Regions from separate parts of the Homo sapiens genome. Here region 1 is linked to region 2. Evidence: fine-mapped expression QTL. A gene starts in region 2. The other region holds a variant in brackets. All regions are shown on one strand. Distances are between the middles of the regions. Region 1 overlaps EEIG2 (EEIG family member 2). Region 2 holds the start of HENMT1 (HEN methyltransferase 1).

Region 1 (8,339 bases), 43 kb after region 2:
CTATTTCCAGCCTAGGATCTCCTAAATTCTAGACTTACATATCCTATTGAGACGCTTTCAAGTATTTGTCCTACAGGTACGTGAAACTCAATATCTCCCCAACTAAACTCATCTTTCCCAAAACTGTTTTCTTCTTGTATTCTCTCTGTAAATGTCATTGCAATCCACAAAGTCACCAAAACTAGAATTACGGATATCACCTCTGCCTCCTTCCTAATAACATTTTCCCATGTCCAATCAATTTCCAAATCTCAGATCCTCATTTAGTATTTTTCCTATTCATCATCTCTTCTCCATCTCCACTAATTACTTGAGTTTTGGCCTTTGTACCTTTCTCCTGGCTGACTGCAAGGGTCTCCTTGCTGGTCTGCCAATCTCTACTCCATGCTACTGTCACTGTGGTCTTTCTGAAACTTGCCTCTGAACATGTTACTCTCTTATTTAAAACCCCTCCATAGCTCCTTCGGCATAAAACTCAAATCCCTCAGAACTTGCAGTCTGGCCTAGACCTGCCTCTTCAATTACCAACAGCTGTATTTTCTTTCTCCTTTCTTTTTTCTTTTTTGAGACGGAGTTTCGCTCATTTCCCAGGCTGGAGTGCAATGGCGCACTCTCGGCTCACTGCAGCCTCCGCCTCCCGGGTTCAAGTGATTCTCCTGCCTCAGCCTCCTGAGTAGCTTGGATTACAGGTGCCCGTCACCATGCCTGGCTAATTTTTGTATTTTTAGTAGAGACACGGTTTCGCCATGTTGGCCAGGCTGGTCTTGAATTCCTGGCCTCAGGTGATCCATCCACCTCGGCCTCCCAAAGTGTTGGGATTACAGGCGTGAGCCACCACGCTCGGGCTGTATTTTCAAATAATGTAAAATAGCTTTGTGGAAAAAAAAAAACACCCTGCATTAAATATTTCATGGGAAAAACTAATACACAGAAGAAACACAAAGAATGGAGCCTACAGTCATAGTCATTAATCACTGATGGCTGACTCATGCCTGCATGTCTAAAAATTCTTACCTTTTTAATGCCAGTTTCTTTCACAGGTGACCTGATTACAGTGTCCCTATCCCCTCTATGTCTTAGACCTGTTTTCCAACCCTCAGAACTCCCAAACATTGGCCCCTTCCCTCTCTATTTCCCTCTGGCTCCATTCTCCCTTCCAGCCTGACTCCACAGCCACAACTCTTTAAGCAACACCTTCAATTTGGCACCCCTTGTTCTGCGGTCTCAAAAAAGCTGAAGAACTGCAACCCTTGATAATATCAGCCATCTATACTAACTGCTCTATTACTGGGGCAACTAAGCATTATGGAGAAAATTCACTGACTATGGGGACTGATAGTAAAGCAAATTTAGAATCCAAAATCTTAGCTGGGGCTTGGCAGCTCTCTTACCTCCCTGGACAACTCAGTCTTGTTGAATAAATAATCACTGAGTGCTTGCCATGTGCCAGTTTTTGTTCCATTACCCCTTTTGTTCTGAAAATGCTTTTATATCTCATCTGAAATCACTTAATGTGGGTCAAGTATAGAAAAAGAAATGGGATTACTTTAATTTGATTGCTTTATAGTAATGTTAAGAATATGTGAAAAATGACCTCATAAAACGACAACATTACCTATTTGACATTTCTTAAATACTCAATGCCCTGTAACGATGGCATAAACTTGTGCACAGTTTTCTCTCCTGGGGTGTCCCTACCTACCTCCTGTGCTTAGTAAATTCCTAGTCATCCCCTAAACTTAGCTCAGTGTCCCCTTCTCAGTAAAGATTTCCCTGGCTTTCAAAGAACTGTGGCTAGGGATCCTATCCTGTGTGCCCCAGTGACACTGTATGCTGTGTGCCTGTCTCCCACGTAATCAGTGAATCCCTTCAGAGCAGGGGCTGGTCTTTTCTAGCTTGTTAAGTCTTGGCATGTGGCAGGCAATCAATACACATGTACCGAATGAATGATTGCATCCTGGGACCCTGGAAGAATTAATTCCTTAACCTCTTAGTCTCGATGTCCTCACTCAAAAATATGGATAATATTTATATTACAGAGTTTTAAGAATTGAGAGACAGTAACATTCATGAAATCATTTTCACAAATGATAATTTCCTTCCTTTTGGAATATGAACGCGTCAGAACCTTGCTATTCAAGAGACTTATATCACCCCTAGATCTGCTTTGCCACCACATTCCCAAATGCCAGCAGAGTATACACTTTCTCTCTCAAAATATCTTTTTTCTTTATTAGCACTTTTCAGAGTGAATTTCATTCTTTTACAAGAGTTGGTGGGTGTTTGATGAGTTGTAGAGAACTATGCAATAAAGTTTAGGGTAGGTGGTTAGGCTGACTTACCAGCTGTCTTCTTCATAAATTCTGGCCTTATGGTATATAATTGGTGCTTCAGAAGAATTATACAATCTATGTCACAGATCTTCTGCTCAGAAAATATTAAAACTAGGATTTAAACTTGAGACTAAGGATCTGCTATACTCCTGTTTCTCAAGTAAATTTAAAACAATTTATATCATGAAAAATTTAAAGATAGACAAAAGCAGACAATGGTAGAATGAAGCCCTCCAGCAGTTATTTACATCTTCATTCTGGACAAAGATACTGAGTAAAGTCACACAATTGCTCTGTTACTCCGTTTCCTCATCTGTACAATGAGAACTTGGATTACACCAACACTTTTAAAACTGGTTTCATGATCTCCTTTAGGGACTTCTGGAAGTAGGTATGGGAGTGTGCTCAATGGAAAATCTATTCTTATCTTACCTAAGTTGGAGGGGATATAAAGTAAAATTTTATATACTAGGATTCATAATATATTTGCTTTATTTTTGAAACAGGTCTTGCTCTGTCACCCAGCCTGGAGTGCAGTGGCATGATCTTGGCTCACTGCAACCTCAGCTTCTTGGGCTTAAGGGATCCTCCCACCTCAGACTCCTGAGTAGCTGGGACGACAGGCGCACCACCACGCCTGGCTAATTTTTTAATTTATTTTTTGGTAGAGACAGGGTTTCACCATGTTGCCCAGGCTGGTCGTGAACTCCTGGACTCAAGTGACCCACCTGCCTTGGCCTCCCAAAGTGTGGGATTACAGGCATAAGCCACCATGCTTGGCCTCATAATATATTTGAGCAAAGGATTTTGTAGCTAAATAGTCTAAAAAAATCACTGGATTAGACAACTTCCAACATTCTTTTCGGCTCTAAAGTAATGTGACTTTACATATTTGACATATATTTAAATATAACTTGATAAAACTAATTTACTTTTTACATCAGTAGTTAAAATGTTTTTCTATTCAGTACATATTCAGTATGTGCAAGTGTATGAATGTGTTAGAATTTCCCCTTTTTCAATGACATTTGAACAATTTCAAAGAGAAAAGAAAAACTACTGAGGGTTTGATTCTCTTGAAAAATATTTTATGTATTTGGAATTAGGTAATGTCTGCTTATTTTTATGAATTACAAAAGTCTTTCTCTGTAAATATAAACTCCAGATTGTCAGAATTAAATTTATGGAGATAATATAAAACATTAGATGATCTACTTTCAAGCTCTTCAATATGTGAGTTTAAGTAGAGAGAGAAAAGGGAAGAGAAAGGGCAAGAAAGGGAATATCCATAAAAAGTTCATGAGAAGGAACGATCAATTTATTTTCTTCTACTAAGTTTTGCTGCTCATTTTCTTATTTTACCCTAAATCTTACTCCAATAGAAAAACAGTTACCTGAGACACCAAAAATAGTATAGCAAAATTGGTTTAATCCCAAGAAAGCAGAAAATAAAGGAGTCAGGAAACCATGGTTTATCAGAAGACAGCACAGGAAGGCTAAGTTATAGGAAGATGTGTGGTTTTAATCAAGAATTGATTTTTTTTTTTTTTT[G/TG]AGACAGGGGCTTGCTCTGTCACCCAGGCTGGAGTATAGTGGTGCAATCTTGGCTCACTGCAACCTCCACTTCCCAGGCTCAAGCAATCCTCCCCTTAGCCTCCCAAGTAGCTGGAACCACAGGTGTGCATCACCACGCCTGATTTTTGTATTTTTTGTAGAGTGATCCTCCTGCCTCGGCCTCCCAAAGTACTGGGATTACAGGCGTGAGCCACCGAGCCCGGCCAAATGTTGCTTTCTAAGTTACAGCTATTAAAAACATGAAGTTGATACATAGGGAGGTAATGTTTTCTTTAGTTTTCTATGTGTATTTTTCTCAGATATTTCAATGGTATCAATGAACTTTCACTTTTAATCATTAAGTGTCCTCAAGGCTGCTGACAGGCAATCCTGCATTTCCCTGTTCCATTCATGCTCACTCTCTGTGAGGACTTCTGCACACCTTTTCCTTTCTTCAAACCCCTTCCTCTATCTTCCCTGTCCTTGCTCTTCAATGAGCATCTTGTTTCCTATTTCACTAAGAAATCAGAAGCAACTGGAAAAGAACTTCTATATGCTTCCATTTCTCCTCTACCTGCGTCAGTAGCCATGTTCTCTGCCTTCCTCCCTCCAACAATCCAAGGGCGCTGTTCTAGCAACAGTCCCTTTTCTGGATCATCAGTTTTTCCCTCTTGTTGAGCCAATACTATTGGTACTCAAATATGTTATATCATCTTCCATCTTAAAAATGAATAAAACCTGCCCTACTCCAAATCCTCTCTTTACTTATGACCCCATCTTTCTGTTTCTTTTTTATAGCAAAACCCCTCATAAGAATTGTTTATACTCACTGTCTCCAATTTTTCTCCTCCCAAACTCTCTTTAACCCATGCTCAAAAGGCTTTAGTCTAAGGGCATTCTACCAAAGTGCCTGCCAAAGTCATCAATAGTCTCTATACTGCAAATTCCAAAGGTCAATCCTCAGTCCTCATTTTCTGAGACCCACTCCAGCAGCGTGTGACACAGGTGCTTATTCCTGCCTTTCTGAGGCCGTTTCTTCATTTGGTTTTCAGGACAGGACTCTGCTTTGCTTTCCTCCTCTGATCACACTGGTGGTTTCTTTGCTCATTCTTCTTCCCAATCTCCCCGACCTCTAACACGCTGGGGTGTCCCCACCTCAGTCTCTGGTTCTTTTCCATCTCTACTCGTTCCCTCTAGTTACTTATTCAAGTCTCATGGCTTTAATTACTACCTGTATGCTGATGATGTAATAATTTCCAAACTTCTATCTCCTGCCCAGATCTCCCCACTGGACTCTAGTTGATCTATCCACCAATTGCCTACTTGACATGCCCCGCTGGATGTTAAATAGGGATCTCCAATTTAAAACGTCTAACACCCAAGCTCCCAATTTGTTCCTCTTGTCTTTCTCATCTCAACAAATGAGAGCACCATTCTTCCAGTTACTCAGGCTTAAAACCTTGGATTACTGAAAACAGCCTTTTATCTACTTATTTGTGTCCCTGTCCTCTCTGTTACTCCTACAGATTGTCTATTCCCTATCTAGCAGCCACAAGTCAGATAATTTTACTCCTCTGCTCAAAACCTCCAATAGCTTTTCTATCTCACTCAGAGTGTGAGTGGCAGTCCTTTTTATAATGGCCACAAGACTCCTTATCATCTGACCTCATCTCCTATCACCCGCCTCTTCATTCACTCTGCTTTAGACCCGCTGCTCTCCAGGCAGCTACTTGAACGTGCCAAGAACACTTCTCCCTCAAGGTCTTTGTCCTTGTTTCCTCTACCTCAAATACTCTTCCCCCTAATGCCAGTGTGACTTGCTTCCCACCTCCTTCAGGTCTCTACTCAAATATCATCTTTACCGGGGGGGGCCTCCCCTGACTACTATATATAGAATAGCAACACTTCTCTTCACGATGGCCCTCCCATCCTTTTTCTCCAAAGCGCTTATGAACCGTTTGTATATTATATATTTACTTGTTAGCTTATTGTCCATTTTCCTCTTAGAATATAAGCTCCAGGATGGCAGGGACTTAATCTATTTTTTTCACAGCTGTTTCTCTAGTATCTAGAATATGGCCTAACACATGGTAAGGCACTTAATAGGTGTTTATTGAAGAAATGAATATGTTCACAGAAGCCGTATTAAAAATTTTTGCTTATATAATTTTACGCAAAACCCGAAGATGATGAAAGACCTATAGCATTAATAATTTGGAGTATGGAGAACTCATTTGGTAATAGGTAAACATAACTTCTAAGAGGGTCAGGTCAGTCTCCCAGGGAAGAAACTATCCCTTAACTGGTATTTTCTTATAAGCACTACAAAATATTAATGTAAAAATTTAAACAAATAAATCTTTCTTATACTTTTAGATACATAATCCATTTATTGGGTATCAACTTACGTTTTAAAACATGGGTCACCAGACATCAGTTGCATACTGATCAAAACCTAAATATAAAACAAGAAATATCACGATTATAAAAAATTATAAAATGCTTCCTTCACAGCACTTAGTCCGATATTTTCTATTGGGAAAGCATTAAATAAAATGATTGTTGAATTGGGTTATATCCACGGGAGGCTAAGGCAGGAGGATTGTTTGAGCCCAGGAGTTTGAGGTTATAGTAAGCTATGGTCATGCCACTGCACTCCCGCCTAGGCAACAGAGCAAGACCCTGTCTCTATTAAAAAAAAAAAAAAAAAAAGAAGAAGTGGGTTATATTCAATATTCAATTACTGCTCCATATAGATTAAAATCATTTTTAACATTCAAAACCTCAAAATTGCAAAAATCTGAATGGAAATAATGGAAACAAATAGCAATAATAATTTACCAGTAATAATCCTGTGGGTGTGTGGCTGTGCTAATCTATCTGTCTTTACTCCCAAATTCCTGTGGTACCTAAGTGTCTGGTAATGTTTTCCTTCAAGTTGCCACGTTGATGTTTCAAGGGATGCCAGCTGGTGGCTTCTAAGAGTAAAAAGCTTCTGACCTTTGTTCCAGCTTTAGATCAGAATTTAAAACTTTTTTTTTTTTTTTTTTAATTCTTGAGATAAGGTCTTGCTTTGTCACCCAGGCTGAAGTGCAGTGGTGCTATCACAGATCACTGCAGTCTTAAACTCCTGGGCTCATGATCTTCCTGTCTCAGCCTTCTGAGTAGCTGGGACTATAGGTGCACACTACGCCTGGCTAATTCTTTCCTTTTTCTTTTTTTTTTGCAGAAATGAGGTCTTGCTTATGTTGTCCAAGCTGATCTTGAACTCCTGGCCTCAAGTGATCCTACCCCTTGGCCTCCCAAAGTGCTAGGATTATAGGTGTGAGTCACTGTGCCCAACCAGGATTTAAAGCTTTTCTAATACTTTCTAAGATGCTGCTATTCTCTAGTTGCTGACTACCTTTAACAGTCAGTCATAGGACCTCTTTATGTTCTTATGGGAATAATAATGATAATGGTAATAGTAACAACAACATTAACAACAATCATGATTTGAGAATTCATTATGTGCCAGGCATAAGCTATGTGTTTAATATGCATTATTTCCTTTAATTTTCAGTATTCCTAGGAGAGAGCAATTATTTTCATTTTAACCTCAGGGAGATTAAGTGATATTTTAAAAACCAGATAACTAGTAAAGGGCAGAGCTGAGATGTGATCCCAGGGCTGCACATAGCAAAATTCATAGTCTTAATGAATACAAGAATATGTACATTGTTGTATGTTCTGCAGCTAATGGATGACATGTATCTTATATAGCCTTATTTCATTCCTATCTCCTCATCCCAGCACCTCCATGACTCTTTTTTCTCTTTAAATGCCAAATCTATCCTGCTGCACTGATTTCCTCATCATCTCTTCTTTCATAGAACCCTGAGGTCTGCTTTCCAACTCCATCAAAACTGCACTCTTGAATATCACGGATGTCTCAGAAAGGAGATGGAGATGGCACATACAGCTTTAAGGAACTGAATAGTTAAGTAGAACAGAGATGTGGGACAGTAGTTGAAGAAGATGAGAGGTTAATTTTTGTCTTTCTTTATAAATATGGGAAACAGTGGAGCTGTTTCTTTATATGTTGATGAGGATGATTCATTCGAGGTAGAGATGATGAGAAGAGGGGATAGTCTAAGGGGTAAAGCTCTTGATTAGGCAAACTTTGGATTCCAGAAGCCAAGAGGAAGGACTGACTTCTGACAGGAGAGGGGACATGCCATCCATTGTAACAGGAGACAAAAAGGATAAGGCGGGAGAGGCAGGTAAAGTCTATGATGGGAAGATGAGGGAATTTGAGTTTAATGGCTTCTGTTTTCTCAATAGGATAAGGCAAGGTCAGTATCTGAGAGCAAGAATAATGTGTTGGGATACGAGGAGAAAAAAGGTATGAGACAGAATATCTAAAATTGAGAAAGGAAGCATATGAAGGAAGTAGAGTATGACTGCCAGATGGCA
Region 2 (8,339 bases):
GCTTCCCCAGTGTTACCCAGCAAGAGGGAATTCTTCCAACCGACTTTGGACTTGAACTGCAACTCTTCTCTGGGTCTCCAGTCTGCCCATCTGCCTGCCCTACAGATTTTGGACTTGCACCTCCATAATTGCATGAGCCAACTCCTTAAAATAAGTCTTTCTTCACATATATACACATATCCTGTTGGCTCTGTTTCTCTGGAGAATGCTCACTGATGCAGGGATGATCAGATTGGTTGTGCTATTGTGGAAGTAGTAGTTTTCCTCTAGATGCTGATCCTGGCAGGGCAGATCCAGGTTTTGTGGGGCCTGAAGCTTATACAATGTCAGGGCCTGCTATAAGAAAAAGCATAAAGAATTATGGATATGAAATTACAACTTTGCATGTCTGACAACTGGAAGAATTTTCCAGACTCTTTTGGAATCATGCTTTTCAAATCTTATTTCTTCTTTGCTACTTTCATAGGTTCACAGCTGGCCCATAAAACACACTCATAGTGTGATTCAACTTCTGGCCCTGCACCTTCCCATCAGGATATGAGGCAGCTCAATGGCCATTCTTACACCGAGACAGCCAGCAATAATTTCACTACTGTGCAGAAAAAATATCCAACACTTGGAAATAGATTATTTCACAGTATTTAACATTTTCTAAAAAAAATTTATTTTTAATTTTGGAGACAAGGGCCGTTCCCAGGCTAGTCTCAAACTCCTGGCCTCAAGCAATCCTCCTGCCTCAGCTTCCCAAAGAGCTGGGATTACAGGCATGAGCCACTGCACATGGCTGACATTTTAGTAACATGCCAGAGAATTAAGCCTGTCTCTCAGGCATATGGCTCTCTTGGGGACTCTAACTTTCTCTGAGTCACTCCCTACAAACAAGAGAGTCCAAACAGTTAACAACCCTGAGAAGTTAGAGGTTAACTTGTAGAATATTGATAAGGTGAGAACGTTTTTGTTTCTTGCTTGGTAGAGAAGATGCTCCAAATGTGCTCTTATTGCTCCATAGGTGGTTATTCAGTTATGTACATAATTCAGTGTTATCAGTCAGCTTGGGTAGCTGTAACAAAATACCACAGACTGGATGGCTTAAACAACAAAAAATTATTTTCTTACAGTTCTGGAGGCCGGAAGTCTGAGATCACGGAGCTGGACTTTTATACATCCACACCGGTCAGTCATTAGCAAAGCACTACCTAGGAAAATGTAAATTTTCAGGCACTTCCCACTCTCTGTGCACATGGACAGAGCTGCTGTCTTCAGTCAGTTTAAATGGCTCACCGGGCCTGGAGGATTCACTTCCAACATGGCTCACTCACATGGCTGGCAAGACAAGGTGGTGCTGGCTGACAGCCTGGGATAGCGGGTGAGGGGGGATTGAGTTTTCTCCATGTGGGCCTCTCCGTGGGGCCCCTTAGTCTTCTTCGCAGATTGTCATTTGGGTTCCAAGAGTGGATGCGTTAAAAAACAGGAAGTAGAAGCTGCCAGTTTCTTAAGTCCTAGGCCCAAAAACTGGCAGAGGTATTCTATTCATTGGTGAAATCACAAAACCCATATAGATTCAAAAGGAAAAGAAATAGACCCCGTTTCTCTCAATAGGTGAGAAGGAATTCGTACATCTTAATCTGTTACAATCTTCCTTCTAGACACAAACTATTTACATTCCTCTTACATGGAATATACAATCACCCTCTTCTCAAGACCTCCAAATATTCCATCCTGTTAAGCATCAGGCTCAAACTGGCATCCAGAATAACTTAAAAAATTTTGTCAGGCGCGATGGCTCACGCCTGGAATCCCAGCACTTTGGGAGGCTGAGGCGGGCAGATCACTTGCGGTCAGGAGTTCGAGACCAGCCTGGCCAACATAGTGAAACCCTGTCTCTACTAAAAATACAAAAATTAGCTGGGCATGGTGGTGCGTGACTGTAATCCCAGCTGCTCATGAGGCTGAGGCAGGAGAATCGCTTGAACCTGGGAAGTGGAGGTTGCAGTGAGCCGAGATCACGCCACTGCACTCCAGCCTGGGTGACAGAACCAGACTCCGTTTTAAAATATTAAAAAATATTTTAAATTTTGAAATTAATTTTTTGTTAGACAGGGTCTCACTCTGTTGCCCAGGGAGTGCAGTGACATGATCACAGCTCACTGCAGCCTCAAACTCCCAGGCTCAAGCGATCCTCCTGCCTCAGCCTCCTGAGTACCTAGGAGTACAGGTGCCCGCCAGCATGGCCAGATAATGTTTTTTTTCTTTGTAGAGACAGGTCTCGCTATGTTGCCCAGGCTGGTTTTGAACTCCTAGCCTCAAGCCATCCTCCTGCCTCAGCCTCCCAAACTGCTGGGATTACAGTCATGAGCCACCTCACTCAGCCCAGGATAACTCTTGATTACCTATTGTGTGCCAGACACCTACACCTGCTGGACTGTAAAAGCTATGAAAGGATCTTTATCTGTCTTTTAAATTCAAACAAGTACTTGATCCATAATAAATACTCTATACACATTTACCAAATAAGTAATCATTTCTCATTTTTTAACTTAAAAAAACCCCCTAACACTCAGAGAGGATGCAACTTCCAAAGGTTATGCAGTAATAGTAAAATCTGGATTTAAGGCCTATTTGACTTAAAATCCACTCTAAAAGACGTTACATGGTCTATAACTCAGTAGGACTTACCTTGTGTACGAAGGAAAGATGAGTTATAATGACAAAATGAGATGACAAGGCTAAGCTATTAGCTGTGGGAAGGAACAGATGGTAGATGACAGCTTGAAGAAGTCAAAATTTGGTGATTGTCCAAGTGTGGGAAGGACAAAAATGGACAGAGCCAAGGATGATTTTTCAGACTCTAATAAGAGTAGGAGGCCAGGAGAATGATGAAATAGGCAAATTTGGAGAGGGAATGGACATGAGGAGCTCAAGTTCATAAATGGGCTAACCAGCAGGGGAGGCAAAAACCCTAGATCCAGGAATGCTGTATAGATGATAGCTTTTATGTTTTCCTTAAAATTTTTGAAACTGTGGTAAATATACATAAAACCACTTTAACAATTTTTAAGTTCAGTGGCATTCAGTGCAACCATCCTATCTACAAAACTTTTCCATCACCCATTAAACAACTCTCAATTCCCTCCTCCTCTCAGCCCGTAGCAACCACCATTCTACTTTGTCTCTATGAATTTGGCTACTCTAGGTACCTGATATAAATTGAATCATGCAGTATTTGTCCTTCCGTGACTGATTATATATCACTCAGCATATCATCATCAAGATTCATCCATGTGGCAGCAAATGTCAGAATTTCACTCCTTTTAAAGGTTGATTTTCCTGAAACTCTGATTGGAAAAATAAAGGCTGAATATTCCATTGTATGTATATCACATTTTGTTTATTCATCCTTTAATGGACATTTGGGTTGTTTCCACATTTTGGCTACTGTGAATAATGCTGTTACGAACTTTGGTGTACAAATACCTGTTTGAATTCCTGCTTTGAGTATATACCCAGAAGTGAATTTATTATTTAAACATTCTATTTTAAATTACATCCTGTAGTAAGGTGTACACTCCTTTAATGAAGTCTGCTAAAACTAGTTTCCCCAAGTCAACAGGAACCTCTCAAACTGTAATGTGAAATTATCACTGAGTGTTTTTTCTTTTTAGACATGGTCTGGTTCTGTCGCCCAGACTGGAGTGCAGTGGTGCAATCATAGCTCACTGCAGGCTCAGATTCCTGGGGTCAAGTGATCCTCCGGCCTCAGCCTCCCAAACAGTTGGGACCACAGGCAGGCACCACCATGCCCAGCTAATTTCTTTTTTTTTTTGGTAGAGACGGGGTCTCACACTCCGGGGCTCAAGTGATCCCCCAAAGTGCTGGGATTACAGGCGGAAGCCACGGTGCCGGGCCTTATGATTGAATTTTTGAAGCTTATTGTTAGTTATGTACTTCTTTACCTATGACACTAGACTCCCCAAAATGCCAAAAACAAGATTGGTGTAATTTATCATTGTGGTACCCTTAAGCTGTCAGCATAGTGCTTTGCATACAGCAGGCGTTAAATGTTTGAAAATACAGTTCCAATATATCATTTGTGGCATATTAATAGGCTATTAATTCAGTAGCAAAAACACCAGCTTTTGCATCTTTCAAAATATAAGTCAATCTTTTTTCCCTAAAGAAGGCAGCTTCGTCCCTCCCCTCACCCCCCTAATACTCTTCCATCATATACAGGAAAGAAAGTACTTATATATATTAAGTGGAGTCTCCAGAGGGAAGGATGGCAGGATACAATAACTTTTCCAAGAGATCAACAGTTCTATCCACAACACTCGGGGAAAACTATTTCGGGGGTCGGGTGGCGGTGGAGAGGGGGCGTTGGGAGCGGAAAGAACGTTTTTCTGAACGCAGGTGTCACTGGGCCAACTTCACCCAGCCTACATTCCTTTAAGGCCCCCGTGGACTGCTCTGGGATGAAAGCGGAGGCTGACTGGGACTCCAGCCGCCGGCCGCCTCGCGTGGAGCCTTGCTGCTCCTCTTGCCGCCTTCCGCTGGCCAGGACCGTTTTTAGGCCTTTGCCACGCCTCGGGAGCGCCACGAACTCAACAGCCGCCCAAGCCGCCTTCCGGCTCGCGGTCTGCGGACGCGCTCGGAGTTGGGGGCCTTCGCCAACAGCTGCCGTACCGTGCCGCGTCGCAGCCGCACGCTAGCGGGGTCAACGGCGCGGCAGGCGCAGGGGTCCTCGCCAAGGTTCGGAAGAGGACCTTGAAAATGGCTTCTGGGCATGCGCCACAGCGGCCGTTACGAGACGCAAAACCGACGCCTTGGAACTGAGAGCCTAGAGGGACGGAGCTCGGCGCACCATGAGGCTCCCGGGGCCCAAGGCCGACCGTGAGAGCGCACGAGGTTGGCGAGCCCCGCGGGGAGGCCGAGGCGCGGGTGCGGGCGCCGGCGTAGCCGCGGCGGTAGCGTCACGCAGCGAGGCCGTGCGTGCGCGGGCGTCAGGGCGGCGCTGAGTTGAGGACGCTGGCGGCTCCGCGACGAGCTTTGTTTTTTCGGTTGGGCATGCTGCTTACCGCAGGATGATGGAAGCGACGGCCCGTACAAAGACAGAAGCGTTGGTTTCAGTGAGCAGGGTTTCTTTTTCTTTTTCTTTTTTTTTTTTTGAGACGGAGTCTCGCTCTGTCGCCCAGGCTGGAGTGCAGTGGCGGGATCTCGGCTCACTGCAAGCTCCGCCTCCCGGGTTCATGCCATTCTCCTGCCTCAGCCTCCCAAGTAGCTGGGACTACAGGCGCCCGCCACTACGCCCGGCTAATTTTTTGTATTTTTAGTAGAGACGGGGTTTCACCGTTTTAGCCGGGATGGTCTCGATCTCCTGACCTCGTGATCCGCCCGCCTCGGCCTCCCAAAGTGCTGGGATTACAGGCGTGAGCCACCGCGCCCGGCCAGGGTTTCTTAATACAAGTTGGTGACTAACATGTTGCCTAGATTCCAGATTAAAGTCTAGTTGTTGGAGACACATGTGCAATAGAGAACTAAAATTTAAATTCAAGTTCGTGAGTGAATTGAATAGATGTTGGAGCATCTCTAGTTTATCAAGGACACTTTTTTTCCCCCTCGAAATTTCATTTTGACGATGTGTGGAAAAATTTTTGAAAAAATTTGAAGTTGAGGGTCTTAGCAATGAAATGGGCAGAACTCCTAAGATTGCTCCGTTTGTATCTAGTTGAACTATTCATGATAGTAAAGGGAAAGGATGGCTGTTTTCGCTCTTAGTAGGGTTTGACGTAGTGAAAAGTTACGCTTTCTGAGCCTGTTTGCGAATGTCTGAAAAAATACTGGATACATTCTGTGGATTAAATGGTAGTCCACATTTAATCCACAGATTGGCTATTGTGAATAATGCTATGAACTTCGGTGTATAAATATCTGTTCGAGTCCTGCTTTCGTGTTTTTTTTTTTTTTTTTGAGTACTCAGAGGTGAATTCATTATTTACTTTTAAGCGTTCTATTTAAATTATATACTGTAGTAAGGAGTAAGAAAGAGGCTTTCGTTCTTCCCTTCTGAACTAGGCAGCTATTTCTTTCAGGTATCGCTTTACAAAAACGGTTTTGTATTTATTACAGCTGAGTCAGTGCTGATTCTCTCAAATAGAGCTTGAAGGATAAATCTTCATTTTTGTTTCAACAAAACTTCGAAACAAAATGGAAGAAAATAATCTACAGGTAATGCCACCCTTCTTAGCTGCGTCTTTGACTCTTAAGAATTATCACCTGGATGTATTGTGAGATAATTGCAAACAAAATTGATCACATTTAGGTCCTAGCATTTCCCGGGGTGTTGGTTGAGGTAAACAAGGGTATACATAGATGAAAGAGTCACATTTGGTGTATGTAAGTAAAATAAATGTTTTTACTTTTATCACTAGGTGTTAAAGTAGCAAAATCTATTTTAAAAACACTCTAAGTAGTGTTCCCCAATGTGGTTGTGTATATGGATCACCTGGGGATTTTGTTAAGTTGCAGATTCTGTTTAAGGAGGTCTAGGGTGAGGCCCAAGCTTTTGTGTTTCTAAAGTTTCTAGGTGAAGATGCCACTGGTTTGGAAACCACATTGGGAGTACCTAGGGTGTAGCTCCCTGCTGTCCAGTAGCTACACATGGCAAGTGGGCACTTGAAATGTGGCTAGTGGAATTGAGGAACCGAACTTTAATTTTTTTTTTTTTTAAGACAGGGTCTTGCTCTGTTGCCCAGGCTGGAATGCACTTGCCCAGTCACGGTTAACTGCAACGCTGACCACCTGGGCTCATAACTTCATTTTTAATTTTAAGTTTAAAATTGGATATTTGATTACATTATTGGAAAAAAGTATGTTTGGAATAACTTGGGTATGTGCATGTATATTTTAAATGTAAAGTTTTTAAATCCAATACAGACAAGTATTTCTGATGAAGGTTTTGGAACTGAGACGCAGAAGTACAAAATATGTAGCACACTGGATTTTGAAGACTTAATGTGAAAAACAAGAATCTAAAATCTCTTATATTGATTTTATGTAAAAATTATATTTTCGATATATTGGTTTAAATATTCTAATTCCGATTATAATTCCAATTCTTGGGCTACAAGAAAGTTGCCTACTTGTATTTTATCTATTGGACAGTGCTACATCAGATATCAAATACCCTTTGGACTACTTTTATAATACTGCTGTATAGGAATAGTAACAGCTATTACAGATTAATCTTATAAATTCTGTTTTTTCTTGGGGTCATGTTAAAGAAAAAATTAGTCTGACTTTATTGAGGACTGTTGCAATAAGAACATTGCAAAGATGAAGAATTTGACCAGATAGGGTGATCAGATATCAGGGGTAGAAGATTCTGTCTAAACTGACTTAGAAGTATTCTTATTAAAACTGGGCTAGGCAGCCCAAAGATAGGATTGGGGCCAGGGTTTGAGGTCTATTCAAGAAGATGGCTCAGAGGAACCTGACTGAAGTTTGGTCAGTGAGAGAGTCTTTTGCTGGTGTGTTGGAATGTTCCTACAGATGCCCAACTACTCAGGAGGCCGAGGCCAGAGGATTGCTTGAGCCCAGGAATTTTAAACCAGCCTGGGCGACATAGTGAGATCCTCTCTCTCTCTTAAAAAGAGTGTTGGCTGGGTGTGGTGGCTTACACCTGTAATCCCAGCACTTTGGGAGGCCAAGGCGGGTGGATCACGAGGTCAGGAGTTCAAGAAGAGCCTGGCCAACATGGTGAAACCCGTCACTACTAAATACAAAAATTAGCCAGGCATGGTGGCGCATGCCTGTAATGTAATCCCAGCTACTCGGGAGGCTGAGGCAGGAGAATTGCTTGAATTGAGGGAGGCGGAGGTTGCAGTGAGCTGAGATCGCGCCACTGCACTCCAGCCTGGGTGACAGAGCAAGACTCCGTCTTGGGGGGAAAAAAAAAATATATATATATATATGTGTGTGTGTGTGTGTGTATATATGTGTGTGTGTGTGTGTGTGTGTGTACATATATATGTGTGTGTGTGTGTATATATATGTGTGTGTGTGTAAGTGTGTGTACATATATGTGTGTGTGTGTGTGTATATATATGTGTGTGTGTATATATATATAGTCAGTCATTATAAATATTTTCCAGCCTCCTGCCTACTTGGACCACAGGCTTTGGCGACTCACTCCACAAAAGGTCCCTTATGGTTAGGAGTCATCTAATTGTTTTCATTGAATACATTCATTGGTAATGTTCCCTTCAGCTGAAACTAAGCTATAGGGAGCATACAGCTAGATTCTCTCTTGTTAAAAGGCATGAGAGGATGCTTACATGAACTGT

The links.
Region 1: its variant is fine-mapped to the expression of HENMT1 in whole blood (INTERVAL, PIP 0.99).

What each region holds. Positions count from the first base shown.
Region 1 is chr1:108,614,382-108,622,720 of GRCh38, reverse strand. It overlaps EEIG2 (EEIG family member 2), which reads right to left. Exons shown (of 11, transcript NM_001010883.3): 5 at 6,293-6,339. Among named protein-coding and RNA genes, the nearest start is that of HENMT1, 43 kb to the left of the region's middle. The variant G/TG (reference allele first, on the strand shown) is at 3,885.
Region 2 is chr1:108,657,747-108,666,085 of GRCh38, reverse strand. HENMT1 (HEN methyltransferase 1) reads left to right here and starts at 4,993. Exons shown (of 8, transcript NM_001102592.2): 1 at 4,993-5,123; 2 at 6,124-6,222. The coding sequence starts at 6,202. It overlaps LOC105378890 (a long non-coding RNA gene), which reads right to left and starts at 1,819. Exons shown (of 2, transcript XR_947679.3): 1 at 1,117-1,819; 2 at 1-336. RefSeq lists enhancers at 4,096-4,684, 4,685-5,274 and a silencer at 4,860-5,029.